Linked DNA regions of Homo sapiens: regions 2 and 3 are each reported to be linked to region 1. Evidence: microRNA targets listed by miRTarBase, many of them from high-throughput screens and not tested one by one. Region 1 holds a microRNA gene; each other region holds the end of a gene's coding sequence.

What was found. Region 1 holds the annotated microRNA hsa-miR-100-3p (CAAGCUUGUAUCUAUAGGUAUG, at 3,485-3,506, opposite strand). A microRNA usually pairs through its seed, bases 2 to 8, with sites in the 3' UTR of a target mRNA and lowers its output. Matches are read on the target gene's strand: a 7mer-m8 pairs with bases 2 to 8, a 7mer-A1 pairs with bases 2 to 7 and ends in A, and an 8mer does both.
Region 2: miRTarBase lists CXCL8 as a target of hsa-miR-100-3p. The part of its 3' UTR that is shown has no 7-base or 8-base seed match.
Region 3: the mRNA of HIVEP3 is a reported target of hsa-miR-100-3p. Seed matches in the 3' UTR shown: 7mer-m8 at 3,906-3,912.

What each region holds. Positions count from the first base shown.
Region 1 is chr11:122,148,756-122,159,157 of GRCh38, forward strand. It overlaps MIR100 (microRNA 100), which reads right to left and starts at 3,553; the gene lies at 3,474-3,553. MIR100HG (mir-100-let-7a-2-mir-125b-1 cluster host gene) reads right to left here. Exons shown (of 5, transcript NR_137179.1): 4 at 6,796-6,877. MIR10526 (microRNA 10526) reads right to left here and starts at 3,401; the gene lies at 3,348-3,401.
Region 2 is chr4:73,741,871-73,751,472 of GRCh38, forward strand. It overlaps CXCL8 (C-X-C motif chemokine ligand 8), which reads left to right. Exons shown (of 4, transcript NM_000584.4): 3 at 79-162; 4 at 579-1,846. The coding sequence ends at 594. Among named protein-coding and RNA genes, the nearest start is that of CXCL8, 6.1 kb to the left of the region's middle.
Region 3 is chr1:41,503,763-41,514,164 of GRCh38, forward strand. HIVEP3 (HIVEP zinc finger 3) reads right to left here. Exons shown (of 9, transcript NM_024503.5): 8 at 9,054-9,988; 9 at 2,603-7,504. The coding sequence ends at 6,689. Among named protein-coding and RNA genes, the nearest start is that of EDN2, 24 kb to the left of the region's middle. RefSeq lists an enhancer at 9,266-9,766.

The DNA.
Region 1 (10,402 bases):
AGAGAGGATAAGATCCATGTGCTAGAGTGCTAGTCAATCAGCCACAACATACAGTTCAGAGGGCTTTTAAATACCCAGAAATGGAAAAATTGATCTTTTTCCATGTACGTTCTTATTCTGGGGGTCAAAGATATAAAGATGCTGCTCTTAGAATACTAATGGTTTTCAATACCCTGCTCTTTTGGTTGTGAATTTCCTTGTTTATTTACACTGATTTTAGCCCATTATCATGTATTAGTGCAATTATGGCTCATTACATAATTAGTGTAAATATTTGTAGGCATGTAATAACAACATGCAATTATGATATGGAATGATGTCATAAAAATTCTTATCGAAAAGTACGAGTGAAAAATAAAACAAGAAGTAGTATTTATAGGTGAACAACAGTAGTATATCTTCAGGTAGAGACAATCTATTGTACTTATTAACTTAAAAAAAATCTTCCATACATTCTCTGAACACGTGTAAACAGACTCTCATGCTATCAAACACCGAGGTTTTAAGTGCTGCCAGCAGCAATCCTCCAAACGAAGTAAGGATAAACCTCAAACAATGCTATGAGTGTCTGAGATTAGGAAACAGCAGAGACACCCCATTAGTAAACATATTCTATATTTGATTAGGCATTTGGAAGTTGGACAAATGTTTTGATTAAAACATGGGATTCATTAAAACATGTGTCAGTATGGCTGACACGCAATTCTTCAAAGGGGCCCCTGATCAGATAATTAGTTTTTTGAAGCCAGAGTCATATCTTTGTCCTTTAGCAAAGTGCTGAACACAAAGTAAACATTCATAAAGGTTTGTTGAATGAATGAGAGAATGAAGAAATCATAATTTTTCTAGCCTTACGGCTATGCCCAATGTAAAAAGTGACTTTTTTTCCAATTCATACTTTATTAACTACCATGTTAGGTTCTAATAAATCTTTGAATATCTTTGAAGAGTCATTCACATCGACTTCTCTGTACAAATTCAGTGCTATTACAGGCAGTAGAGGCTTTAAAAATCTTAATTAGAGAGCCTAGGTGGCATTTGATGGGATTAAATACCATAGTCAACAGATAAGGATCCACAGGACCTAACAAATATTGAGGAATGATTCGTAAGCACATTGGAAAACTAAGAAATCATATTAGTTTAAAATTCAAAATTAATTCTATCATACACATACCATTTTTCCCATGTAAAGAAATACATCTATTAATTTTGAAATATAAATAAGAAAACTTCTCAAGCTAAATCTCAGCTTCTCCCTCCTCAAACTCTGATGTTGCAGGGTGAGTTGCTCAGGGTGAGTTGCTTTATCAAATGCATTTCTCGGAATAAGTTTCTTTTCCTGTTTTAAAAAAACAAATCTAAACCATGTCCTGGTATTACATCTTAAATATATTTTGATAGTGATGATTTGAGAAATTTAATAAAACTAGTTTGCTTTATACCCATTCCATTTCCTCCATGCAATAATAGCTGTTGAAATATTTCTTCCAAGCCTTTCTGGGGAAATTCTGAAATTATTTTACTTTCTGCATGATTCCTGTAGGATATTTGGTACACTCTGAGGGAGCCTCAAAGGAATAATTAATATCTACAGAACCATTCATTCATGAACATGGAAGGAGGGAAAAATACTGAATTTCATCATGTAAAATATTTAATATCCTGTTTCTTGTGGCCAATGTCCAGGGGCTTTGGGCTTCCCATTAGAATATTTTCTAACCAGATGAATCAAAGTTTGAAGCCGTTTAGAAACTTTGAAAGGGCCAACTGCTCTATATAATCTTTTTTTCTTGGGATAATGTGTTTTTAAAAACCTCCTTAAAAGAAGTAATCTGGCAGTCACCCACTGGCCATTTTGCAGTCCCAGTATTGTTCCTGTACGGGGAATACTGGGAGCTCATGGTCCCCATGGATCCATGAACTCCACCGCTAATCCCATGGTAGTACACTTAACAGCAGGTTAAAGGATGATGAGTAGAGATGTGATTTTGCCGTTATCAAACAAGTATTTATCTAGTGGAGGTACTGATTTAACTTGCTAGCAGTTTATTCATTCCAAGTTAACCACTTCAAAGAGGCATATAAAACTAACCAAGCAAATTGTTTGCTTTTTGTGTAGATAAAGGCCTTAGGCAAACAATTTATACAACACACACCAATGAGGACAGTCTTTCACTTTGGGTTGTAATATGCCATCATTCTATAATAAAGCAATGCTTTCTTGGCAAGCAGGGGGTTGAGCACCATAGACAACCCTCCTCAGTGCTATGCAAAGGAAATGCATGGAAACAATGTCGTCTTGGTCTAGCAATTACAGAATTCCAAATTCTACCCTTTATACATATGTCATCTGTATCTAGGCTGTCCTAATTCGGAAATGCAAAATCTCATTTCTATATACTGGATAAAAGAAAGAGTTTTAGTTATTCCTGAGTAGGTCTTAAGAGGAGACAGAATTTATCCACTTGAATTTCAAACTTTTCTCTAATGTTAACCCACCAACTACTTCATGTTGACTTTTTTTGTTAGAAGAGGACACACACACACACACACACACACACACACACACACACACACATCTTAAGGGAACTTCTGGCACTATGTTTTACCAAAAGGGCATGCAAAAGTTTTAGAGTCATCCAAATCTGATCAACTTTTCACCCTGGGTTCTAGTTCTGTTTACAGACTCCTCAGCTCACATTGTTGGAATGAAACAAATATAGCCAGTTTTGCTTTGATCTGTGGTCAGTTTAGCTTTTCAATCCTGGCACAATGGTGACATTTAAGAGGCAAGAGGATAAAATTATTTTCATTCCAGCGTTTTAAACAGGATAAAGACTTATAAAACAGCTCTGGCCAAATATGAATTTGGACCTAAACAGGCGATCTCTTTTTTATAAGAAGTCCTTCTTACACTGCTGGATATAAATAGAAGTATAAATAGTTAGGCAGTTAAACACATCCATTCTGATTTATCAGTCCTTATCTTCAGAAGCAAAATTATTGGGGAAATTGGGGGAGGAAGAATTGCAACAAAGGAAAACCCAAAAACCCAAATCACGGTGAAATTGGTCCTGTAAACACATCTGCCACTTTCCAGAAAATATCATAATAACTTTGAAAACAATTAGGCTTACAGAAAACAAAACAAACCCTTGTTTATCTCTTTACTCATCACTCAACAGTAAGTTGTTCCAATCACTCAAATTCTTGCTGCCTCACCTGTAAGCTCAGCCTTCTAATTTGACAGCAGAGACCAGTTACAAGAGATATGGGAATTGAGGGCCAGCCTATTAATTCATCATTGAAGAACCTCATTCATTTCAGGACAAAAGGTCTCCTTCCTCCACCTCAGCCCCCTTTTCCATTTTTATCACTCTTAAAGGAAACTAAGGGGAAGAGAAGGAGAATGAAATAACTCGAAGGGATATTGAATGGCATATAAGCAAAGCCCCAGGTCCGTGAGATTGCCTAACAGACACATACCTATAGATACAAGCTTGTGCGGACTAATACCACAAGTTCGGATCTACGGGTTTGTGGCAACAGGCCTCAATATCTTCTCTCTTTTGGGGCTGTGACATGTCTGAAAATAAAATATTACAACCATTAATCCAATAAAAGAGTCTACCATTCAATTGTTTTATGCCATAAATGGAAAGGACTTCGTCCCACTCTCACAAAAGCAAAAGTTAAGCAATATCTTCTATGTTCTCCCCAACGTGCTTCCCTTGGTTTCCACTTTTTCCACAAATCCAGTGGACTTTAGGTAAACCTCATCATTTTACTGTTTATATATGGAAGACTCATTTATTCACTGCTGAACACATAATCTGGGCAAAGTGATACCAAAATGGCAAACCAGCAGAATAAAGAAAATTCTTTAAATTGTAGGCAGAGAGAAAGAACACATGAGAGCCCAAATGCAAGTCCATTCCTTTAAATACCTGTCATTACATTAAAAATGATGGTGAAATTTTCATTTTCCTATTTGCATTCTGGAAAACAACTAGAATAAACTTAGCAAGTACTACCAACGGATTTATAGGTATATTTTTTTTTTTTTTGAAAACCACTCTAGAGTAGATTTTCAGGTATATTAAGATCCATCTTCGGGAAAAGTTTGCATTTTTGTTCCCACCCCCATCCCATCCCCACACTTATTATTGATTCAAACACCAACAATGAGCAAGTTTGGGTGTACTCTGTAAAATTTGAACCATAGAAGAAATTACATAGTTGTTCCTCCTTCCCCCCGCACCCCCCGCCCCCCGCAATACTGTTTGAAAAAACAGGGATGAATCTGTTTCAGAGACCTTCTTATAAAATGATTGCATTTGTCAACATAACATTTTTTTTCTGCAAAGCCAATGTTCTACATATAAGAAGGGAACATCCAAGACAATGGACTTTCATTAACGACGCCTTTTGTGAATTGTATTGAAGACAGGCATAATCATAAGCACTTCAGGGACATATATTATACAGCTAAATAACTCCCTGTCCTAGATGCTGGGAAACACACATGACTCCATCCCTTTACAGGACCTAAAAAGAGACCTTTTTAACTTTTGTTAGCTATAATTATGGATCCTGGCTCTCAAAATAATTATCTCATTTGCCTCAAAAAATGGACATTCACTCCTTTCTCAAGAATCTGGGGCCAGGCACTGGTGGCTCATGTGTGTAATCCCAGCACTTTGGGAGCCCAAGGCTGGCAGATCACTTGAGGTCAGGAGTTCAAGACCAGCCTGGCCAACAGGGTGAAACCCTGTCTCTACTAAAAATACAAAAAAATTAGCTGGGCATGGTGGCGTGCGCCTGTAATCCCAGCTACTCTGGAGGCTGAGGCATGAGAGTTGCTTGAGCCTGGGAGGCAGAGGTTGCAATGAGCCGAGATTGTGCCACTGCACTCCAGCCTAGGCAACAGAGTGAGATTTTGTCTCAAAAAAAAAAAAAAAAAAAAAAAAAAAGAATCTGGGAGATGAACTGAAGCCCTACCAAGGGGAACAAAAAAAGACAGAGCTGAATTGAGGAATTATTCAGAGAAAAGAGCAGGCCCTCGTGTATGCAACCTAAAAAGTTAAATAAAGAGAACAGGAAACCAACAGTACGATGAACAGAAACTGAGACATAACCATTCATAGATACTTTGTTGTTTCCCCATCTCATCACAAGTGAGCTGTGGTACAATTGCTCAGAGCCTGCTGGTGCTGTGAAGGTTGGCAAAACTGAGAATCTAGTTGTAGCTCTGTGGCTTAATTTTCAGATCCAAAGAAATAACAATAGCAAGTGGAAGTAAGTAGTATCCAAATCAGTCACCCCCAGATGGTCTTTATTTATTTTATTTTAAAATGTTCATTTCCTTTCTAAAATAAAAGACTTTTAAATAAGCTCTGAGCTGCTTCTTTTCCTTCCGTCTCTCTGACAAAGGCATGGGGCTAGAGGTATTTGAGGATGGCCACTTTGAACCCTGTTAAATATTGCTGGAATGTGGGGGATGTAGGTGCTCCTATTATAATGGAGCAGAATAAGCCCAACGTCCCAGAGTAATGAGAATGAATTGTTATCATCACGCTTACTAGAACGATACAATATTTGTTAGCGATAGACTAAGATCTATCAAAGTGGTACACTGAGACATTCAAATAGCACCACTTTCATAAATTTGCATGGCGCTCTTGACCTCCACAGAAAGGAGCTCAATGCTGCGTTTCAGCTGGGGGCAGCTCTCCCTTTCCTTGGCAAATATAGAACAGAGAGAAGTTTTTCATTTCAAATGGTTTGTAGTGTTAACCTCCAAACAATCCAAAGTTTCCATTTTAGAAAATAAAAGAGCAACCAGAAGATACCCAGGCTGCAGGAAAAAAACGAGAAGAAAATCAAATACTGACCTAGTAAAGGGATGGTTTGTTTGGGAGTAGATATTTTTCTTAAAGTATTAATTGAATACGTCCTTTAAGAATCTTCTTTGTGTTGAGGAGGAAAATGAGGGGTTTTTTTCAGAAGAAATTTTGGCTTGCTTCATTAAGCAAGAATCCGTGGGCTCTCTTAGTAATATTAACAAGTTGGAAAATATGGGTTAATGCTGATAAGCAGTGACAAAGGCCGAGTAATGTAACTTATAAAGCAAATATATAATTTATGTTATTAAACATTTTTAGGTGGCATAAAGCCCTTCAATGACACTAAAAGGAAACTGCCTGTATCATGAAAGCTAAGATCAAATCCTACTCACTGAATATATGCATGGGAATAGTTTCATAAAGTGCCATATAGTATTGCCAATCTATGACTAAAGTAAAAAAAAAAATCAATATTGTTATTATGTAATTTATATAAGCTCTATCTTCCAGGAATTCAGAACACATGGTAGGCTTTTTAGAGCCAATCCTGTAATACTTATATTTTTTCATTCAAATGCCCAAGATAGCGACAGAGTTAAGGGGCAGTGCCTGCTAGTTTCAAATGCTTATGATTGCTCAGAGCCTGCTGGTGCTGTGAAGTTTGGCAAAACAGAATTTAGTTGTAGCTCTATGGCTTAATTTTCAAATCCAAAAAACCAAGTGCTGTTCAGTAATAAATTTCTAAAAATTTTCCAAACTCCATAGAGTTGAATGTCATGCCTGCTCTACTCCTTGGCTAGGAAAATTATAAAACTGGTTTCTTTTTTAAAAAATTAAGTTTAAAATGTAGTTATTCTTCATAATTAAATCATTCAAGCATGCCCTAAAAATTTGCAATACTTGAGGAAGCGAAAGGTTTGGGAAAATTACAGAAAAACACCATTACCTGAAAAAGGTAACTTCTTATGTAAAATTTTAAACCTGCTTCCATCTTGTTAGGCTAATATCTTCAAATCATCCACGCGCGTCTGGAAAATAAGACATTTACAATATTTTAAAATGGGTTAAGAATTTTTACTTGTTTTTCAGTTGTTTTTTTTTTTTTTTTTTTTTGCCACCCAACTCTTTTGTAAAGTTGAAAGTAACACTAGAACAAGAGTAAAAAGAAAAACAAAAACTGAAATAAAACTATTTCTAGAAAAACATCGGGAACCATTATGTTTACTTCATTTCCAGAACTACGCATAATAAATAGGTTCTGCAAATAAGTAATTTCACAAATCTTTCCTGGAATTCCCCTGGCTACGCTTGGACCTTGAGAACAATTTTACCAGAAAAATGATCAAATAGGAATGTGAAGTCTCGGAATACTCCCATACTTTTGTACAAATGTTTTATACCAAACCACTCACTTGCTAAGCATGATGAAGAGATAGGCTATCTATGGTTAAGAATAGTTTAAGGAATAATCAATGAATTGGGCAGTGATTACCTGGCATGATGCAGCGCCATTGAGACATCATTTTAACTTTTTTACTGTCAAATGATTCAGGAGTCATTATTTCTCTCGGCTGATAGGGCTGTTAAAAAGAAGCAAGTATCCGATTGTGGTGGACTCATGAGTCTATGCCTCTCCACCACAGCAGGATTCCTGGCTTCCATTCCAGTGTCCTTTCATTGGCCATGTTTTGGACGCGGGGTTCGCCTTCCCTTCATTGTCCCTTTACTAATGGAAGGCGAACTCACAGTGCAGCTGCTTGCAAAAAGGAAAATTTATTTGAGTTTTGCCTGGCTGTGGACTTGAACACTGAATCCATGGTGACATCAGCAGAACGACACCAACGGAAAGATTTCCTGCCCTCTACCCCCCTTCCTTTTTAAAAATGTACGTCTTGTACAAAATCTCAGTGGATCTCCTTTGTCCCAAACAGATGGGACAGTTTGACCAGATAATATTTTTTATCTGGGAAGGACAGGAGGAAGGAAGGAAGGAAGGAAGGATGGAAGGAAGGAGAAAAAAAGAGAAAAGAGAGCGGCACAGAGAGAGAAAAGAAAAAAGAGAGAAAAAGAAAAAGAGCCAGAGACAGAGAAAGGAAAGAAAGAGCAAGATAGAGAATAAAGAAAAAATAAAGAGAAGGAAAAAAAGGAAAGAATAAGGAAAGGAAGGAAGGAAGGAAAGAGAAAGAAAGAAGGAGAAAGAAAAAGTAGGAAGAAAGGAAAGAAAAGAAAGAGAAACAGAAAGAAAGAAAGAAAGAAAGAAAGAAAGAAAGAAAGAAAGAAAGAAAGAAAGAGAAAGAAAGAAAGAAAGCTTGTTCAAATCTAACCTTTGTCGTTCACTCTGACAGTGGGTGTCCCCTGAAGCAGGGGAGACACTAGTGTTTGGTCTCCTACAGCTTTTCAGTTTTTCTGATCGTTTCTCTCATCCTTTGCAGTCACTGGTTTTTGCCAAAAGATCCAATCACCTCAACAAAAGAGGCACATCCAGCAATTGCTACTCCAAGAGTAATTCATTGGTGCCAATTGTCGTGCCACGTTTTATCCACCTGGGACATTGCCACAAGGATATCAGACCACAGAGTGGGAGCAGCGCTCAAGGATATGACGCAGAGGCTTTTGGCATCAAAACCAGTTAGCTTAGGTAGAACTCATTCCTTTTTACAAGGAAAAACTGGCCAGAAGGCAGTAGGGAGCGAGGAGAATGGCAAAGCAATGCCATGGCTTTCATGTTTCTTTCGAGCAAATGGAACACTGAAGATTGATGGATATTTATAATCTTCATCTCACCACACCCTGCCCACACTAAACAATATTTTATGAAAATGATAAATGCAAGTGTGTGTAGATCAAGCAAAGAGAAAAGATGGAAAATGGTATAATAGAAGATAGATCGGATGAAAACAAAAGACACTCTTAGACTATTTGAATAGTGAGCTTACTTTTCTGTAATTAAAAAAATCTTAAACCCACTTAATATTCACTTAAAACAGGCATATAACAGAAATCAACTATTTGAGAGTGAGAAATTGATGGCAAATTCACTTTTGACACACTAGATGAAACAAAAGAGAGACTTTGCCAGTACCAAGTTGTATCGTGTGCGCTGGCTAAGGTATACTACTTTCACTTTTGAAAGGAATAAGTTTGCTCAGGATGACAATTTTTCTTCCTTTTTAAAATGCAAACAATGATGCCAGCCTACAACTTCCTTTCTAGCTATTTTGCTAATAAAGCAGGGGAGGAGAATTGAAATTTGAAAAAATAACAAGACCTTGATTCTGACATAGAAACATCAGACACGTACTTTTAAAAATCAGATGACTGTCATCTCTTTAATAGAAGTGAACTATATGCTATATAAATGCTTCCTAGACACCAGCCAACTTTAACACTTTCTGTTCAAAGCTATGTTTTGCTCTTGAGAAAGTATCTCACAATTAGATGAGAAAGTGGGTGGATAGGATGGCTTGGGAAGATTTGAAGATTGAATCCTGCAAGAAAAGAGATACATAATATGTAAAGAGTGAGTATTTCTTGAGGGTTTTGACCGCATGACAATGGAGTCTTGTTCTGGGAAAGTTATAGAGGAGCCTGGAACGTCCAAAATGATACTTATAAAAAAAAAAAAAGCAACCTTCAAACCCAAGAAAAGATGTTCAGCTGAAACAGAAAGACCTTTTTTCTTACTCCAGGGTGCAGATCCACTCAGAGGAAAAGTCACACACCCCTGTCTCTCTGCATTTCACCCAGCAGGTCAGCGTTTCTCCACCTAGGGCTCTCCATGTCTATTGATTTCCACATGTCTCTCTTTGTTTGGAACAACAACCAACCAACTAGAAGACGATTTTATATACTCTTCACCAAATTGAAGTTGGGAAAGAAAAAAAGTATTAGACTATTTTCCTTACTTCTCGCTCTCAACTTGTCCCAAATATTGATCTGGTTATTTTGCTTTCTAGCCCTCCATCAACCTCCTAACTCTTTCTCTCTCTCTCTCTGTCTCTCTCTCTCTCTCTCTCTCTCACACACACACACACACACACACACACACATACATACATACACACACACACACAACTGCTGCTTGATCCAATCTGGTGCCTGCTTAACAACAAGAGAATGACAAGCAACATCTGTTTGTAAAAGAGCCAAAGTCAAACCTTAACGTTTTTTTGGCTAGGTTTCTTTTTTCCTTTTTCCCCAGACTCTAAAATGGGAGGGGGCAGAAAGAGAAATATGAAGATTTATATTCAGCATCGGCTCCAATGAGGCAGCATCTATACTCCCCTAGAGCTATTTCAAGGTAAAAACAATTTTAGGTAAAACCACTGCAGAATTTATGGTCGTCTCCCCTGCAGCAAGCCCAGCCACATAAAATCCAACATATCAAATCCCTAAAAGTCAGGATTTTTTCCTAATAGCTTTATATTCATCTTCTAATTAGAATTACAGGGTCTTTGTGTTGGGGGAGGGGTGGTAGAGATAGAAAGGGAGGAGGGTAAGACAGAAAAAGAAAAATAGAGAGGAAAGGAGCGCCGTTGTTCCTCCCAGATTTT
Region 2 (9,602 bases), not on the chromosome of region 1:
CTTTATGCCTGACTTAAGGAATCATGATTTGAATGCAAAAACTAAATATTAATCTGAACCATTTCTTTCTTATTTCAGTGTAAAGCTTTCTGATGGAAGAGAGCTCTGTCTGGACCCCAAGGAAAACTGGGTGCAGAGGGTTGTGGAGAAGTTTTTGAAGAGGTAAGTTATATATTTTTTAATTTAAATTTTTCATTTATCCTGAGACATATAATCCAAAGTCAGCCTATAAATTTCTTTCTGTTGCTAAAAATCGTCATTAGGTATCTGCCTTTTTGGTTAAAAAAAAAAGGAATAGCATCAATAGTGAGTTTGTTGTACTCATGACCAGAAAGACCATACATAGTTTGCCCAGGAAATTCTGGGTTTAAGCTTGTGTCCTATACTCTTAGTAAAGTTCTTTGTCACTCCCAGTAGTGTCCTATTTTAGATGATAATTTCTTTGATCTCCCTATTTATAGTTGAGAATATAGAGCATTTCTAACACATGAATGTCAAAGACTATATTGACTTTTCAAGAACCCTACTTTCCTTCTTATTAAACATAGCTCATCTTTATATTTTTAATTTTATTTTAGGGCTGAGAATTCATAAAAAAATTCATTCTCTGTGGTATCCAAGAATCAGTGAAGATGCCAGTGAAACTTCAAGCAAATCTACTTCAACACTTCATGTATTGTGTGGGTCTGTTGTAGGGTTGCCAGATGCAATACAAGATTCCTGGTTAAATTTGAATTTCAGTAAACAATGAATAGTTTTTCATTGTACCATGAAATATCCAGAACATACTTATATGTAAAGTATTATTTATTTGAATCTACAAAAAACAACAAATAATTTTTAAATATAAGGATTTTCCTAGATATTGCACGGGAGAATATACAAATAGCAAAATTGAGGCCAAGGGCCAAGAGAATATCCGAACTTTAATTTCAGGAATTGAATGGGTTTGCTAGAATGTGATATTTGAAGCATCACATAAAAATGATGGGACAATAAATTTTGCCATAAAGTCAAATTTAGCTGGAAATCCTGGATTTTTTTCTGTTAAATCTGGCAACCCTAGTCTGCTAGCCAGGATCCACAAGTCCTTGTTCCACTGTGCCTTGGTTTCTCCTTTATTTCTAAGTGGAAAAAGTATTAGCCACCATCTTACCTCACAGTGATGTTGTGAGGACATGTGGAAGCACTTTAAGTTTTTTCATCATAACATAAATTATTTTCAAGTGTAACTTATTAACCTATTTATTATTTATGTATTTATTTAAGCATCAAATATTTGTGCAAGAATTTGGAAAAATAGAAGATGAATCATTGATTGAATAGTTATAAAGATGTTATAGTAAATTTATTTTATTTTAGATATTAAATGATGTTTTATTAGATAAATTTCAATCAGGGTTTTTAGATTAAACAAACAAACAATTGGGTACCCAGTTAAATTTTCATTTCAGATAAACAACAAATAATTTTTTAGTATAAGTACATTATTGTTTATCTGAAATTTTAATTGAACTAACAATCCTAGTTTGATACTCCCAGTCTTGTCATTGCCAGCTGTGTTGGTAGTGCTGTGTTGAATTACGGAATAATGAGTTAGAACTATTAAAACAGCCAAAACTCCACAGTCAATATTAGTAATTTCTTGCTGGTTGAAACTTGTTTATTATGTACAAATAGATTCTTATAATATTATTTAAATGACTGCATTTTTAAATACAAGGCTTTATATTTTTAACTTTAAGATGTTTTTATGTGCTCTCCAAATTTTTTTTACTGTTTCTGATTGTATGGAAATATAAAAGTAAATATGAAACATTTAAAATATAATTTGTTGTCAAAGTAATCAAGTGTTTGTCTTTTTTTTAGTTTTAGCTTATTGGGATTCTCTTTGTTTATATTTAAAATTATACTTTGATTTAGAAAACATAAATGCTTCCCCTTAGCATTTTGTTTATGGAAAATTACAAACTTTTATTTTTAGAAAACAGAACTCCTTTCCAGAAATAGGTTACAAACAGTAGTGTCCTCCACAGAATGTTGGAAATGTTTTCAACTCCCCACTGTATACTATCTTGCTAATAAGTCTGTCTTCAGATTTCGATTAACCGGTTTGTATGTCTGTGCGCTTTAGCATAGCTGGACATTTAAAGAGGAAAGAGAGTACATATTATAAGTTGCTTATCAGTAACTGAGGAGTAAAACTGATAAATGTGAGGCAAAGAAGTTTAAAATATGGTTAAAGCCTAAGCATATTTGCAAACAAATCAAACAATACTCTGAGAAGTAAAAACATAATTATTTAATTAACAAATTTCAGTGGATAAATTTTATAACAAATTAGACACAGTTGAAAATAAAATTAGAAAACTAGAAAATAGAACCAAAGAACTTCTGGAATTCTTATAAGAGAGATAAAGAGGTAGAAATTTGGAGAAAGAAGTCGAAAGGCGTAGAGGATACAGGTGTAAGCTCTAATAGATGTCTAATTGGATTGTCACAAGCAGAAGAGAGAGGAAAGGGTCAGAGACAACATTTGAAGTGACAATGGCAAAAATCTTTCGGAAATGATGAAAAATAACAATCGATGTTTCAACAAATCCAATGTATCAACATTTACCTTTATATTCCTACTCAAAAAACAAGGATTTTGGAACTTTTACGTTTAACCACCTTCTAGCTCATAGGCTATTGTTGCTGGGTATTTTAAGTTCACTTCTTTTTTTTTTTCTTTTATTTTATTATTATTATATTTTAAGTTTTAGGGTACATGTGCACAATGTGCAGGTTAGTTACATATGTATACATGTGCCATGCTGGTGTGCTGCACCCATTAACTTGTCATTTAGCATTAGGTATATCTCCTAATGCTATCCCTCCCCCCTCCCCCCAGCCCACAACAGTCCCCAGAGTGTGATGTTCCCCTTCCTGTGTCCATGTGTTCTCCTTGTTCAATTCCCACCTATGAGTGAGAACATGCGGTGTTTGGTTTTTTGTCCTTGCGATAGTTTACTGAGAATGATGATTTCCAATTTCATCCATGTCCCTACAAAGGACATGAACTCATCACTTTTTATGGCTGCAAAGTATTCCATGGTGTATATGTGCCACATTTTCTTAATCCAGTCTATCATTGTTGGACATTTGGGTTGGTTCCAAGTCTTTGCTATTGTGAATAGTGCTGCAATAAACATTCGTGTGCATGTGTCTTTATAGCAGCATGACTTATTGTCCTTTGGGTATATACCCAGTAATCGGATGGCTGGGTCAAATGGTATTTCCAGTTCTAGATCCCTGAGGAATCGCCACACTGACTTCCACACTGGTTGAACTAGTTTACAGTCCCACCAACAGTGTAAAAGTGTTCCTATTTCTCCACATCCTCTCCAGCACCTGTTGTTTCCTGACTTTTTAATGATTGCCATTCTAACTGGTGTGAGATGGTATCTCATTGTGGTTTTGATTTGCATTTCTCTGATGGCCAGTGATGGTGAGCATTGTTTCATGTGTTTTTTGGTTGCATAAATGTCTTCTTTTGAGAAGTGTCTGTTCATGTCCTTCATCCACTTTTTGATGGGGTTTTTGTTTTTTTCTTGTAAATTTGTTTGAGTTCAGTGTAGATTCTGGATATTAGCCCTTTGTCAGATGAGTAGGTTGCGAAAATTTTCTCCCATTCTGTAGTTGCCTGTTCACTCTGATGGTAGTTTCTTTTGCTGTGCAGAAGGTCTTTAGTTTAATGAGATCCCATTTGTCAATTTTGGCTTCTGTTGCCATTGCTTTTGGTGTTTTAGACATGAAGTCCTTGCCCATGCCTATGTCCTGAATGGTAATGCCTCGGTTTTCTTCTAGGGTTTTTATGGTTTTAGGTCTAACGTTTAAGTCTTTAATTCATCTTGAATTAATTTTTGTATAAGGTGTAAGGAAGGGATCCAGTTTCAGCTTTCTACATATGGCTAGCCAGTTTTCCCAGCACCATTTATTAAATAGGGAATCCTTTCCCCATTGCTTGTTTTTCTCAGGTTTGTCAAAGATCAGATAGCTGTAGATATGCGGCATTATTTCTGAGGGCTCTGTTCTGTTCCATTGATCTATATCTCTGTTTTGGTACCAGTACCATGCTGTTTTGGTTACTGTAGCCTTGTAGTATAGTTTGAAGTCAGGTAGCGTGATGCCTCCAGCTTGGTTCTTTTGGCTTAGGATTGACTTGGTGATGCGGGCTCTTTTTTGGTTCCATATGAACTTTCAAGTAGTTTTTTCCAATTCTGTGAAGAAAGTCATTGGTAGCTTGATGGGGATGGCATTGAATCTATAAATTACCTTGGGCAGTATGGCCATTTTCATGATATTGATTCTTCCTACCCATGAGCATGGAATGTTCTTCCATTTGTTTGTATCCTCTTTTATTTCATTGAGCAGTGGTTTGTAGTTCTCCTTGAAGAGGTCCTTCATGTCCCTTGTAAGTTGGATTCCTAGGTATTTTATTCTCTTTGAAGCAATTGTGAATGGGAGTTCACTCATGATTTGGCTCTCTGTTTGTTTGTTATTGGTGTATAAGAATGCTTGTGATTTTTGTACATTGATTTTGTATCCTGAGACTTTGCTGAATTTGCTTATCAGCTTAAGGAGATTTTGGGCTGAGACAATGGGGTTTTCTAGATATACAATAATGTCATCTGCAAACAGGGGCAATTTGGTTTCCTCTTTTCCTAATTGAATACCCTTTATTTCCTTCTCCTGCCTAATTGCCCTGGCCAGAACTTCCAACACTATGTTGAATAGATATGGTGAGAGAGGGCGTCCCTGTCTTGTGCCAGTTTTCAAAGGGAATGCTTCCAGTTTTTGCCCATTCAGTATGATATTGGCTGTGGGTTTGTCATAGATAGCTCTAAGTTCACTTCTTTTTAAGAGCTCCACAAGTCTGCTTGTACGTAGGTATGTAGATTTACCTGAATATTTATCAATTCATTTGTTTTCCATTCTTTCTCATGTTATGTCTCAGGCCTTTTATACCAGTTTCTTTCTGCCACAAAGACATCCTTAGAATTTAGTTTAGTGATGGTCTGGTGAAGACAAATTTTCTCATTGGTTGTCCAAAGGAAGCTTAATTCCAAGTTTGTTCTTGAGAGGTATTTTTGCTGGCATATGTTCAATTTGTCAGAATATTTGTCAATTGTAAACTTTTGTGCACTTAATAAAAGAATATCAAAAATATATAATGTATACATTCTTATAACTAGAAGGAACAGGCAACACATAAACAAACCATTGCAATAGGAGACTTACAATAAACTCTTAGTAATTGATTGTCCAAGAAGACAGAAAGCAACATGGGCTTAGCAAATTTTAACAGCACATTATCAAGCCTGACCTAAGAGATATGTATGAGACATGGTGGATAACAACTTTAGGATATACATTGTTGTGTAAGTCCCCATTGACAGGACCGGCTTCATAATTTGAAGAGTGTAATGCAAAATAAAAATGTAGGAACTTGTGTTCAAAAATTATTAAAAATGTAATAGTAACAGTTGTGATAGCAAATCAATAACACATGCATGGAACCCTTCTGAACATGAGCCCTGTACAAGTATACAGGTCCCACACCCATGAAGCAGACCCTGCCCATAGAATATTTATGAAATTTATCACATTCTGAGGCATAAAACAAGTCTCAACAAATTTCAAAGAATTCATGTTATATAGACCACATCATCCAAATATTTTTCAATTCATTTAGAATTCAACCACAAAAATATAAGTACTAAAAAGCCCATATGTTTGGAAAACAATAAACACTTCTAAATAAATTATCTGTGCAAAGAAAATCAGAATGAAAATTCAAAAATTTTTAGAATACAATTATATAAATACTGTATATCAAAACATGTGTGCAGTTGATAGAGTAATGGCATTCCAAGAGATGTTCATGCTCTAACCCGTGAAATCTTTGAATATGTTACCTTACACAGCCAGAGACTTTGCAGGTGTGATTATGTTAAAGATTTCAAGATTGGAAATTATCCAGGAGTATTTGTATGGGCCTGATGTAATTGATATAATCATAAGGGTCTTCATAAGAGGAAGGCAGGATGGTCAGATACAGAGAAAGAGATGTGATCATGGAAAGGAAAGAAGTGTTACAGGGAAAAGCCCAGGAGTCAAGGAATACAGGTGCCTTTAGAAGCTGGAAAGGCAAGGAAATGGATTCTCTCCTAGAGGCTCCAGAAAGAACATAACACATCTACACTTTGGATTGAGAACTTCTGACCTTCAGAATCCTAAGATTTATAATAATAAATTGGTGGTGTTTTATGCCACAAAGTTTATGGTAACTTTCTTTAGCAGCAATAGAAAACATAAACTGTTTAATGAAATTAATTTAATATTACTAGTAAGTATTTTATACTTACAACTGTAGTGATTATATTAGAAAAAAGAATAAAGATAGTAAAATAATAAAAATAGAAAAGTAATAAAGAACTGAGCAAAGCATTAATACATCAACAGAGGATTTACACAAGTTGGTTGTTTTGAAAGAGTAATAAAATTGATAAAATTGAATTGAAAATAAAACAAACTATGATTAACAGCACTAAATTTGAAAAGAGATTAATGGACATATTTCTACAATATTGTATTTCCAAATCTAACTCAAGAATTTAAAAAAAATCTATAGAATTCAATAACAATCAAGGACATATTAATCAATATTTTAAAATATTTCTACTAAGAAAAAAATAAGTAAGCCACACAATTTTATCAGAACTCATTCATAAAAACACATTACAAAAATTTTTAAAGAACACAGTATTAAGACAAAAACATTTAAAGATTTTAATACATCATAACAAACAATACAACTTAATAACTGAATACAACTTAAATAACTGAAGATCAATTAATGAAACTCACAAGCATTGACAAATGATATTAAGGTAGTAAAGGAGAAAAAACTTGATCATCTCAATGGATTCAGAAATAACCTGGGATATGACTTAACATCCAATCATTTTAAAGAAAAAAAATCCTCTAGGAATGAGAGGAAACTACTTTAAACCTATAAAAGTTACAATAAAACAAACAAAAATCACAGCATACTCAAGACTTAAGAGTTAATTTAAAAATAGTAATATATACAATTGAAGCAAAACAGGTTTCCATTATCACCACTTCCATTCAATTTTTTATTGAAAGTCCTGGGCAATGCAGGAAGATAGGAACAAAGATATTAAAAAGTAACAATTGGGAAAGAAAAAAATAAAAGGTAGAACTCAAAAGATTATATAAAGATAATTGATTAACTTTAAACAATTTTGCTGGGTATGAAAACAATTTATAAAAACAAATTGCTTCTCTGTATACCAGGAACAATTAGAAAAGGCAGCTTAAAGCATACTATATAAACTAGCATCATCATTTAAATCAACAAGAAATAAATCTAACAAAGCTGTGTAAGAAATGTGTGAAGAATATTATTATACTTTATTAAATCCCCAAGATTGGAGATCATCCTATAAAAACCCTAGAAGACAACTTAGGCAATACCATCTTGGACGTAGGAGTGGGCAAAGATTTCATGACAAAGATAACAAAAGCAATCTCAACGAAAGCAAATGTTGACAAACGATATCTAATTAAACTTAAGAGCTTCTGTGCAGCAAGAGAAACTATCAACAGAGTAGACAGAGGGTGGAGGGTGGGAGGAGGGAGAGGAGCAGAAAAGGTAATTATTAGGTACTAGGCTTAATACCTGGGTGATGAAATAATCTGTCTAACAAACCCCCATGACAGGAGTTCACCTATGTAACAAACCTGCCCACATCCCCTGGAACCTAAAATAAAAGTTACAAAAAAAGTCATCAAAGGAAACCTAAAAATAAGGTAAATATAACATGTTGCATGAATTGGAAATAAATCTTGTAAAACAGATGTCACTTATTTCCCAATTAATTTACAGATCCAATGAAGTTCTAATATAATTTCCAAAATCTATGTATGTAATTTGTCAAGACGATTTTAAAATTTGTCTTGAAGTGAAAGGTTCAAGAATATCTGAGACATCTTTGAAGAAGAACAAGTTGAGACACACTCTTATTAAAGCATTGGGGTCTCATTCCCAGTAGCCTTTAGAGAAAATTATAGCTGTTAGCCTTGACGGGAAGAGTTAGACGAGGTGGCTTATTGAATTGATTCAAAGCCAATCAATCTATGTGAAAACACTGGTATTAGTAAGACATCTAAAGACTGCAAGGAAGACATAGGCTGAGATACTTTCATTAATCAGGTTTGCATATTCCAGATGATCTGAAGTCACAAAGGGTTCCCTCTTTCTTTCGTATTTAGAAAATATGCTATAGGACATTTAGAGTGAGGAAGAAAGTCTTCTCTTATTTTCTCACTAGTTAGTTCACATTGCAACCTGCTTTTCCTATGTCATTTAGCTTCTTAACAATTGCTCTGGGTACCTATAGTTGCTATTATCTCTCTGGTCTCTTTTATAACTCCCAGTGCATATTAACACATAGGTATTCAGCATAATAGAATCAATGCAAGATTTAAAAGTGACACACCAGTAGGAACCAACTGAAAATTCTACCTGGTATTCGCTGTTTAGAAACAACTTCGTTGTTTCCCTTTAGAAGAGGATTTTTTCCTGCCTATATTTCTTCTCTTGCTATGTTGCGGGGCTTCTTTTTCTTCAGGGTTCTGCCTAATCTTCGTTTCCATATTCTCCTCTTCACATTCAAGATCCCTTGTCCCACTCCCATTTTTCAGTTTCTCATCTTGTGTATCTCATTGATAAGTAAATAAAACAGATAGAAATAAGTAAGTTTAATAAAATATTGCTAGGAGATGTACCAAAGTTATTTGCATGAAAGTTGATCATATGAATTGGATCATTTTTGTCACTCAACTAAAACAGAGTTGGGAGGCCAGGGAGGGGGTGGGGTGGGGGGAAAGCACCCAGCACAAAACATTGCTCAAAAGATGTAATTCTCTGCAAGCTGGGCAGCTAAAGCTGCCTGCTATAACCTGAAACCAGTTTGATCTAACTGCTGAAAGCTGCTCAAACTCTCTGACTAGTTTTGCCCACTGCTGTCACTTACCTATCAGAGTTTGCTAGAACCTTAAAATCTTACTAGTGCTAATGAAATTTCTCAAAGAGCAATATGTAACATTTTCCCATTTCATAAAATCTTGAACCTTCTCCTTGTTATCCAGAAAGCACACTTCCACTTGTACTAAAAAGCATGCCTCCCCAATCTATAGATTTAAAAAAATTATAAAAAATAAAGCTCTACTCCTTTCCCTCTACAGATCTCATGGTCTTTGGTTAACATTTGGAAGCAGGCAAGCAGGGGTTATCTAATCTAACTAGCCTAGATTTCCATGAGAACGTTTAGAGTCTGAAGCATGAGTAGGAGTTAGCCACACAAAGGGAAGAAGAATGTGTAGGAAAGGAGTCTAGACAGTGAGAAAAAGTAATGTGTAGGCAAGAGCTTGATATGATTTAAGAAGTGAAAGAATTTCAGTATGACTAGAGTTTGGCGTGAAACAGAACAAGTGCTAACAGCTAAAGCTAAGACAATAGACAATACATT
Region 3 (10,402 bases), not on the chromosome of region 1:
AGGCCCTCCTCCCTCCCATCGCTGACATCTGCTCATCTCCTCTTCCAATTCTGAGAAGTCCTAGCCTTGTATGATTATCATTACGGCTGTTTCCAATTATTCTCATTCTCCTTCATTAGGCATGACCACGTGACTTGCTTTAGCCAGCAAAATATGCATGGAAGGGATAGTTGTAGTTTCCACGTAAAAGCATTTACTTGCCAGTAGGAGGCCACGAGTACTGTATTTGCCTCAGCCCCTGGGGTCATGGAAGCACAGGGAAGGAGCCTCTATCAGTTTAGGTTTCTGACTAGGATAAGCATAATTCCCCTGCTGACCCACAGTGAACATATAGTGAGGGAAAGAAATACACTTCCCTTTGCATTCAGCCACTGAGTGTCTGGGTTGCTGGTTTCTGCTGCGTAACAGAACCCATCCTGACTGTTAGGCCTTGGCTCACAGCCCGGATCTCCACTTAAGCCCTGCAATCCTCAGTGATGGCCTCATCTGCCACCTGCACAGCCCACTCAGCACCCTGGACTCTCACTTCCTGATCTCTTTCATCGCACCTCAGCCACACCTGTGGCTGACACGGTCTTCATCCAACGAGTTAAGACAACTCACAACATTTTCCTGTTTTCATCCAAGTGGTCACTTGACCACTGGCCTTTCTCCTTATCAACCAGGCCTCTTTGTTCCCTTCTCAGCGTGTGGGCTCAGTGGCTGGTGGCTTCAACCTCTTCACTCGCCAGTGACTCACCTCCAGTAACTCATTGTCCTTGTGTCCCATGGCCTGGCTAACCCTGGGCCACCTTCCCCATGCCTACAGCCAGCGGCTGAGGACTGCTGGAAAAACCACACCGCTGAGCAGACAGAGGGCAGCCGGCCCGTGATGCTATGCAGGTGCCTTCCCTGTTTCCCTGGCGGCTTCCTCTGGCTCCCCTCAAAGGTCATTCACTCCTACTCAGGTGTCTTTGATCTTCTCACCCAGCAGCTTCCTCAGGTGACTTCACTCTATTTCCCACATACAATCCATTCTTAAGAGTGTCCTCAACTTCCCGTCACCAAATAGACACACTGACTTCATCTGCACTTCCTCCCTCCCCTCCTTTTAGGCCACTGTGGGAGAGGAGTCTACATCTGCTCTTCATCAAGCCAGGCTGAATTCTCATCTCCTCACCAGCCAATCACACACTCAGCTTCCTTTCCCTGCACTCCACGCGCCCCCCAACAACTGCCCCAGCTCTCCCCTGTCTCTAGCCTAGGCCCCTAGAAGGTGTCTGTGTCTGCTACCTCCACTTCCCCACCTTGCCCTCACTCCTCAACCACCACCATCCACAGCCACCATTTATTCACTCAACACTCAGCAGCATCTATGAAGGGCCCACTGTGCGCCAGGAACTGTACTAGTCCAGCTTTCCCAAAAGCCGGCAACAATTCATCCTCTGATTGCTTTGAACGAACAGACCCTCTTAGGCTCTTAGCACTAAACTTCTGGACGGCGTTTACCCTGAGAATCCCCCTTGATCGTCCATTAATATCTCCTTCTCATGGCTCCCTTCGTCCTCCCGACCCTTAGGACTTTTCCAAGGAAAAGTCCCCTGGGTGATGCAGACTCACTCTGGATTAGCACTGTCATTCTCTTCCACCACAGCAGTGATGGCCGCTGTGATTGAGTAACTGATGATGGCCTCCCCTGCTACAATGTGAGCTCCTCGTGGTGGATCTGTGTCTGTCTTGCTCGCTGTTGTATCAATGACTGCCTCTCGTTGGCACTCGGCAAATCATTGCTGAATACAGAAGGTGAGGACTCCCTATCTTTTCCGCCCGTGTAACCCCAGAACCCTGTGCAAAGCCTGCTCGGAAACAAATTGTTGAAGGCTTACTATGTTCCAGGCTGTGTTAGCCACCCTGTATATGCCATCTCATTTAATCCCCACGCCAGCCCTTATAGATGTGGATCATGACCCTCCACTTTACAGATTAGGAAACAGAGGCACAGAGAGGTTAGGTGAGTTGCCCAAGGTCTCACAGGCAGTAAGCGCTGTGCCTCCCCCACTGCCAACACTCAAGAACCAATTCACTACTCATCTTGAAGTGAGGTGAATGGGGGTCCCCCCGAAAGTTAAGTTTATGTCCTAAAGCCTGGAATCTGTGAAAGTGGCCTTGTGGAGGCAGGGTCTGGAGTGATGAGTGTATAAACCAGGGAAGGCCAAGCATTGCCTGCAGCCACCAGAAGCTAGGAGGGGCATAGAATTGATTCTCCTTCAGAGCCTCCGGGAGGAATCAACTTTGCCAACACCTTGACTTTGGAGTTCAGGCTTCCAGAACTGTGAGAGAATAAATTTCTGTTGTTTAAAGCCACCTAGTTCGTGGTGATTTGTCACAGCAGACTAGGGAACAAATACAGGCCCCAAACCACATGGTGCTATATCTGGTGCTTCCTCGCGAGGCCTTTCCAGGGTCTGCAAGAGTGTCCTGGGCTGTGTGACCGCAGCCTAGTCACCTCCGCTCTCTTGGCCTGACTGCTCTGAAGCAAAATGAGCACTTGGGATGCCAAGTATCCTTCCAACTCTGACATTGTGGAACCCTCTAGAAAAACCATGAGCCAGGCAAGCAGGGCTATGTTGGGATTTTCAAATTTATTCCAACATGCTAATTCTTTTTTTTTTAAAAAATATCCTCAGGCTGAACACTCAGCCAGAGCTGTAATAAAGGCAATTATTATACTTGTAAAAACTTCTCATTCACAGTACAGATGTAATTTACAACAAAGGTCACACACATCAATACTGAGCATTTTTCCTTTTGTACGTCAGACTCTGTGCTTTAGACCTGCGTGGATTTTTGTTTTTTTTTTTTGTTTGTTTCTGTTTTGTTTTTTCTTTTGCACTGATATATACCATACCAACATTGCAAGATGCAAGTGTGGAAACTGGAGTTTAAATAAAATTACAGGCAAAACTACCCCATCCCAGTGCGGTTGCTGTACATATCTACAGTACAATTTTTGGAATGTATTGCCATTTAAGAACATAGAAACTTTCTACAGACAATTTCACATACAGAATACGTACACCTTTTAGAAAAAAAGGCAAATATTTATCTTACAGAGAGCATTGTATTTTACATTTGCCTGCACGTTTCTTTTTTCTGTTTCTTTTCTTTCTTTCTTTTTTTACATACTAGATTTATTAAAGTGACCATAAGTGCCGAAGCGGTTTTCTAATGGAAAGCAGACTGGATTCACAACACAGAAGCAGAATTGGTGGAACAGGCTTTCGGGAACTTTCTTCCCCTGGTCACACGGCAGATCGGTCCCCAAGGACAGGTGCTCAGCCAGGACTTTTGCTTTAAGAAGGATTTGTCTGGAGAAAGGACTAGAGAGAAATCCAGCTCAGATGTATTGCTCATTCCTCTTCAGAAGGACTGGGTGGGAATGGAGCAGGGGCTAGAGGAATCTGGAAGCTAATTCTTTTAGGCTTTTTCCAACAGAGGGAAGCAGAGGGACTTCTGGGTCTGGAAGTTGGAGCTTACGGAGGCGACAGTGCAGGCAGCTGGCTGCTGTCGGGCTCCTGGAGGGTTGCAGGGGTTGAGCCCAGAGTGAGAGCCACAGGTGCGGGCGGGAGCAGAGAGGAGTGGGGTTACTACCCAGGATGGCCCTGAGATTGCCAAGGGTGAAAGGCATCGTGGAGCGCAGGCCTGGGGGGCAAGGACTCACCAACCAAAGGCAAGGTTTGGCTCTGAAACCTCGACCAGTTGGTTCCTCCCCCACTGCCCACACCCAAGGACCAGGACTAGTCTGTACCGAGGAATGGCCACCCCGCGCATTTCAACAGAGCACGTAGCAGGCATCTGTGCCAAGTCAGCCACTGCCTCCTCTGCTGCTTCCCTCAACAGGCACAATAACATCACAGGCAAACAGGAAGCTTGGAAGTGACTGGGAGCAGGGCAGAAGGCCCAGAGGAGGGCGTGCATGGGGCGAGCGTCTTTCTCCAAATCATGAAGGTGTACCTGTGGGCTGGGGGCTCTGTGCGCAGAGGAGCGGGACTAGAGTCCGGAGGAGGGGGTTAGAGCTGTGCCCAGTGACATATACCCAGGCTGGTGGCATTGGTTCTGTCCCTCTGGGCACGGCATCAATGTGGAGGCAGCCCTTTGGTGAGATTCTATTTGTGCATTTACCCCCATCATTTAGAAATAGTCTCCAGTGACTCCTGGCCCCTGTGGCTTCTCTGCCTGAGCCTGACGGGCCCGGTGACTGCCGGGCCTCTGCCCTGCCGGCTGCACTGTTCATTGCTAGGCTGCCCAGGGAGGAAACCTTGGGTGGGTAGGCTGTTTGAGTACAGGGAGAAAAATGCCCAGGAGAGCTGGAAGGCAGGGTGGGGTGGAGTGGTGTGGGGCCCCCCACCAATGTCAGGGGCTAGTCCACCAGAGCCCCCGGTCTGCTGCTTTGTAGGTCTGGGGCAGGAAGAGCTTGCCCAGGCAGATTTCTAACCTGGGCTGAAGCAATGCCCTTTATGCAGCTCCCAGACCTCAGCCCTTGAAGTCTCCAATCCGTGGGCAGTCCCATGGGTTAGGGCTGAAAGGCAAGGATGAGAAAAGCCCTGGCCTCCTGGGACTTGGAGGAGTCACTTTCTGTCAGGCCACTGTCCAGCAATATGGACAGTGTGGTCCAGGCTGGGCTTGCTGCTTCTCTTGGGGAGGATGAGAGCCCTAGTCTCTGAGGGAAGCAGCCAGGAGCTGCTGGCTAACCCTGATTCCCCAGAACCCTGGAGCACAGTGGACTCCCAGGGAGCCCTGCCTTCTGTCTCATTTTTGTCTTAGCTCTGAGGCAAAGGAGAATGAGTGAACAAGGTGGTCTGGCTGCAGGCTGGACTGTGGCTGGTTTGTCTGTCTAGTAGGGACCAAGCAGGGAAAGGCCACGAATTGGAAGAGGCAAGTACAGCCCCGCACAGGGAACTCACAGAAGGGTCTTAACCCTCCCCACCTACTGTGTCCTGTACCCAAGCAGCTTCAATAGCTCAAGAGCCCTGGGGCAGGCACTTGATTCACACAGCCTGGCTGAGGACTGGGGATTAGCCAGAGAGGTCCCTGCTCTGTATAGGGTGGCATCAAACCCAGCCTTCACGGGCCTCAACCGTAGTCCCTGTGCTGCCCTCCCTTGTAGAAAGTAAAGAAAATCAGTTCTGAAACACTGGGAAAAAGCTCACCTCTCCCAGTTGGGGCGAACACGCTAGAGTTCAAGTTCCATAGTTCAATTTGGGATTTAAATTTCTGGTCCTATTATTTTTCTTACAAAGTAGAGTTTTGCCCCAGGAAATGCAGGGCAGCTTCTTGAAAGTAGAGATGTGGGTAAGGAAGAGGCACTGGCTCACACTGATTGCTTTGGAGAATTCCAACGAGTTAGGACAATTCAAAAATCCTCTAGGTCAAAAGAATCTGTGGTGGCTGGGTGAAGTATCAAACACCATCCTCTCTCTTTTTAAAAAAGAGGTGTAAGACAGCAAACAGGTCCAGGCCGTATCCACCAGCCACAGTTGTGGGTATTTCCTTGGGGTAGTGGAGACAGGGGCAGGGACGGGGGGAAACGGTCCTGTGGCAAAGTGGTCCTGAAACAGTTCCCCGCAAACCTCTGCTGTGGAGAACTGGAAAAACCCAGCCATGAGGGGAACAGGCTCCCTTGTACCCCAGGGACCAAGATGAAACAAAACCCAAAACCCAGTCTCAGGAACGGCCGCTAGGGCTCGGGCCCTGCCACTTCTGCCTTTGTGGGTGGTTTGGTGGTTTTAGAACAGAGGAGGCAACAGGAGAGTGAGGCCTCGGTCAGGGGCTTGGGAGCCAGGGACGGACAGTCAGGGCTCCTTCCCCAGCCCAGGGGGCCAGGGTGGGGTGCAGAAGGGAGGTGTCTGGAGTGGGGGTGCGTGGGTGGGGTGGCCTGCCCACCTGTGGAGTGCCAGGATGGGCCCATGACTCAGACTACCAGAGTATCCAGGAGCCCTTGGGGAGCCAGCCCTCCTCCTTCTACCTGCACCTATTATTTTGTGTTGAAATCCTAGGAAAAGTATCATTTTATTTTCTTGCAAAAAAAAAAAAAAAAAAAAAAAAGGAAAAGATTAGTTTTTCTGGGCCTGCCTGCTGGGGCCTGGGTGGGGGTCACCTGCCTGTGTTTGTGCCCCTCTGCCTGGGGACACTGGCCTTTCTGCTGGCAGAGAGGGGTGGCTACGAGCTGGGCAGGGGGGTGAAGTGGCAATAAACAGGAACCTTGATCGCATCTGTACACAGGAGTGCTTCCTTTTACATTTAATTCTATATTGTTTGAAGTTTCCTTTTCCTTTCTCCCTCAGTGTACCCCTTTCCCTCTGCCAGCCTCTGGGGTGGGTGGCTGCCAACCACAGCGGGGAGGGTCAGGAGGCTTCACCATCAGCCTTTCCCCAAAACCATAAACTATTCACAGCCTCAGACTCCTCGTGGGTTGTTGTTTTTTTTTTAAATGTATGTATGTGATTTGTTTTGTTTCTTTTTAAGCAACAAAAGGTGTAGAAAAAGGCACAGGTAACTGCATACATGGGAAGGTACAACAGATGGGGCCGTGAGAGCTCCTGGACGGAGGGACAGATGGGGCTGAGGAAGTGGGATGATTCGAGGAAAGTGGCTGGAAACGTCTGTTGCTGGACACTGGAAGCCAGATGCTGAAGCAGTTGGAGAGAGGCTAAGCGTTGGGGGGAACCCTGTCCTCAGGCTGATGTGGATGTGCCCTGGGCTCCCCACTTCCTGAGGGCTTGGGGGAGTCCTGCCTGGTCCTGGGTTCCCCGGAGAGGTTCCTCGTCCGGGCTGGGAAGCGGGCAGAGGCCTCTGCCAGGCAGCCCACAGAGCTGCTGCGGTCCAGCGGCGGGGTGGCAGAAGGCTCGGGGTTGGTCGGTGCACGCGGGGACTCCAAGCGGGGGCTCCAGGACTGCGCTGCCCGGCGTCCCTGGGGCGGCCGGGGCAAGGTGTCGGGTGGGGTGCAGGGGCTGTGCGTGGGTGTGGGCTCTGCAGGTGCCCCGGTCCCATGGGGTGTCCAGTCAGGAGGCCTGCCCGGGCCTCCGCCGGTCCTCTCCCTCTCCTTGGGGTAGTCCCCGCCCTCCAGCTCTGAGGAGAGTGTGAATTTGGAGACCTTAGCCACAGGCGACACGGAGGCTGACGAGCTCTCAGTGGGACTCCAGCGGCCTCGCTCCTGGGCCTCCCGGGCCCCTGTCAGGTCGCTGCCACCCCCGGAGAAGCCACTGACCCAGGCTGCGGTGGGCCCTGGCAGCAGGGTGGGGTGGGCTCCTGGCCGGGCCTGCACCATCTGGATCCCACCGATGGGAATCAAGGGACATGGGGCACGGGTCAAGTGCTGGGAGTGCAGAGGCAGGTGGCTGAAGATGTTCTCCTCTGTCCGGGCCAGGATGTGGCCGTGGAAGTCATGGAGGGCGGAGAAGGGTCGGGAGGAGAGAGGATGAGCAGGGCCGGGTGAGCAGGAGGGACTTCGGGACTCGGCCTTCTGCTGGGGTCAGAAAACAAGACAAGGTAAGGTGAAGGTTACATGCTGGGCACATGGGGAGCCGAGGCCTGGAAGTGGGAGGGGGACTCGCCCAAGATCACAGAGCGAGTCCAGGGTCCCGGCTGAGCTGAGCCCAGAACCAAGTTCCTGACTCCCTGCCCACAGATGCTGAGCCAGCTGCCATCTCTGGAATGGGCCATCTCCAGCTCGACAGTGACCATGAGTATGCTCAGGCCCCATGGTCTCCATGCCTCTAGCCAGCATATCTGTCTTCAAAGGAGGGGATACTTGAGCGACGTGGGGCCCTGTTGTCACCCATGAGCCTGGCCTCTATGTGGGTCTGCTGCCTGTCCTGTTCCTAAAATGGTCTTCACCCAGCTTCACTCTTGGACATGAGTTCCCACCTGAGGCTCTTTGCCCTTCTGCTACCTCCAGGAATTTGAATGTGAACCCAAAATTAAAAATCAAGGAAAGATTCCTAGATCAGTGTTCCTCCAGGAGTGACAGGGCTGGGTCATGGCAACACGGGGACAGAGAAGGTGTCGGAAGGGGGTCAGCTGACAATGATGGTGCTATCGGTGGAGGGGTCATGGCAGCTGAGGGGACAGGGATGGTGACTGTGCTCATGGGGTGGCAGCAGTGGTGTGTTGGTGCAATGGTGACAGTGGTGGTGCTGGCCATGGGGATAGTGCTGATGGTTGACAAGGATGATATTGGTTGTGGTGTCTCTGAGAGCACTGGTGACAGTGATATTGGAGATGGTGATGGTTTTGGTTAAGTTGTGCCATCTGCTCAAAGAACACAGGCAGATGGGGATGGGGTGGGGGATGGGGAATTGCACGAGTATTTACAACCTCATCCAAGGCCACACCCCTTGCAAGTGATATGATATCGTTTGGATATTTGTCCCCGCCCAAATCTCGTGTTGAATTGTAAACCCCAGTGTTAGAGGTGGGCCTGGTGGGAGGTGTTTGGGTCATGGGGACGGATCCCTCAGGGCCTGATACTGTCCTCCAGATAGTGATTTCTCATGAGATCTGGCATTTTGAGCGTGTGGCACCTTTCCCCCAACTCTCTCTCTTGCTTCCACTCTGCCATGTGAGATGCCTGTTCCCGCTTTGCCTTCTGCCATGAGTAAAAGCTGCTTGAGGCCTCCCCAGAAGCCGAGCAGATGCTGGCACCACGCTTCCTGTACAGCCTGAAGAACTGTGAGCCTATTCAACCTCTTTTCATTATAAATTACCCAGTCTCAGGAATTTGTTTATAGCAATACAAGAACGGACTAATACGTGGTAGAACCCATTTCCCATGAACTCCAGAGTCCATGCTCTGTGCTTCTGAGGCTAAAATAAAGTTTAATAAGCCAGCTGATTTAGGGCAGCCAGCATGGTGCATGGCACAGTAGGTGCCTAATAAATGTTTGCGAAATTATTAATAACTACTGAGCTGGCAGAGCTGTTTAGTTCCAGGTGTGATACCCAGGAGGGTGTGAACTTGCAACCCCTGCACCCACAGGGGAGAAGCGGCCCAGCCACCAGGGGCAGGAACTCACCCACGGGGAGGCGCAGGTCTCTGGGCTTCTGCTGAGGAGCTTGTGAGGTAGAGGCGCGGGCGGGAAGAGAACCCGTGGGTCCAGCCCCAAGCCTGGGCCATGCTCCCCCGCTGAGGGGCTGCCCGGCCCAGCCAAGGCCCACTTCCCTGGCGGCGCTGACCGTGGTGGTGACTCGGCCTGACCTGGAGACCATCTCCTGGTGGGCGAGTATCTGGGGAGGCCTGGGTCGGTGGTACCCTCGAGTTTGGAGAGCACATGTGCTCGAGGGGCCAGTTCTCTTCCCAGGGGGCAGAGGGTGAGAGGAGACAGCTGAAGTCTTGGAGACCCACAAGGGAGAGCGCCCATGCCCCTTCCTGGGTCCACGTGCAGGCCAGGTGGGCTTGGGGCTGAGGCCTGTGGTTCTCGGGCCGGGGAGCATCGCTGGGGAGATGAGTCGTTTTTGGTTAGCGAGTGTTTGCGGGCTAGTGGTGGACGGCTGCCTGCTTCTTTGCTTGGGGACCACGGTCTTCTTGGGGACACAGGCTTGTAGCTCAAGGCTGAGCCTGTGTCTTTCTCCACAGAGCCCAGAGGGGCCGGTCCCAGCCAGGGGAGGCCCGGCATGCTCTGGCTGGACATGGAGCAGCTGCTGGCTGTCAGGCGCTCAGCTTCCGAGACCGAGCTGCCTCGTGTAGCCTCCGTGCCAGAGGCGGGGGCATCTGGGGGCTGAGGGCCCAGGATGGGTGAGGAGTCTGCCCGCAGTGCATGTGGTGGGCCAGGCGGGGGCGCCTCTGAGGATGGTCTGGACAGCTCATCCTGGCTCTCCTCCTCATCCTCATCCTCGTCTTCGTCCAGGTCTGAGTCTGAGTCCGAGTCCTCCAGGTCCGAAAACTGGTGCTCCTCCACAGCCTCTGAACCCTCTCGTCCTTCCGAGTCCTGGAACAGGTCGTCACTGGTTCCTGAGGGCAAACACAGAAGACCCAAGGTCACAGTTGGGCCTTGGCCCCACTGCCCACACGGCTGCTCCTCTCTGAGCCCCAGTTTCCTTGCCTGCTGACTGGGCAAAATAGCCATCGCAAGGGCACAAGATTGTTGGGACAACCAAGAAACGTAACAGATATGGGAGCGCTTTGTAAATAATAATGAACAATAATTCCCTTATGCCTAGAATGTGCAATGTTCAGTTCTGAGAGCTTTAGGTATATTTATTCATTTAGACCTCAGAGAATCCTGTGAAGCTGGTACTGTTCTCATCCTCATGTTACAGATGAGGAAACTGAGGTAAGAGAAAGTAAGTAACTTGCCCATGGAAGACAGCAGTAGGGCTGGGATTGAGCCATAGCAAAGAAGACAGTCTTTGTTTGTTTGTTTGT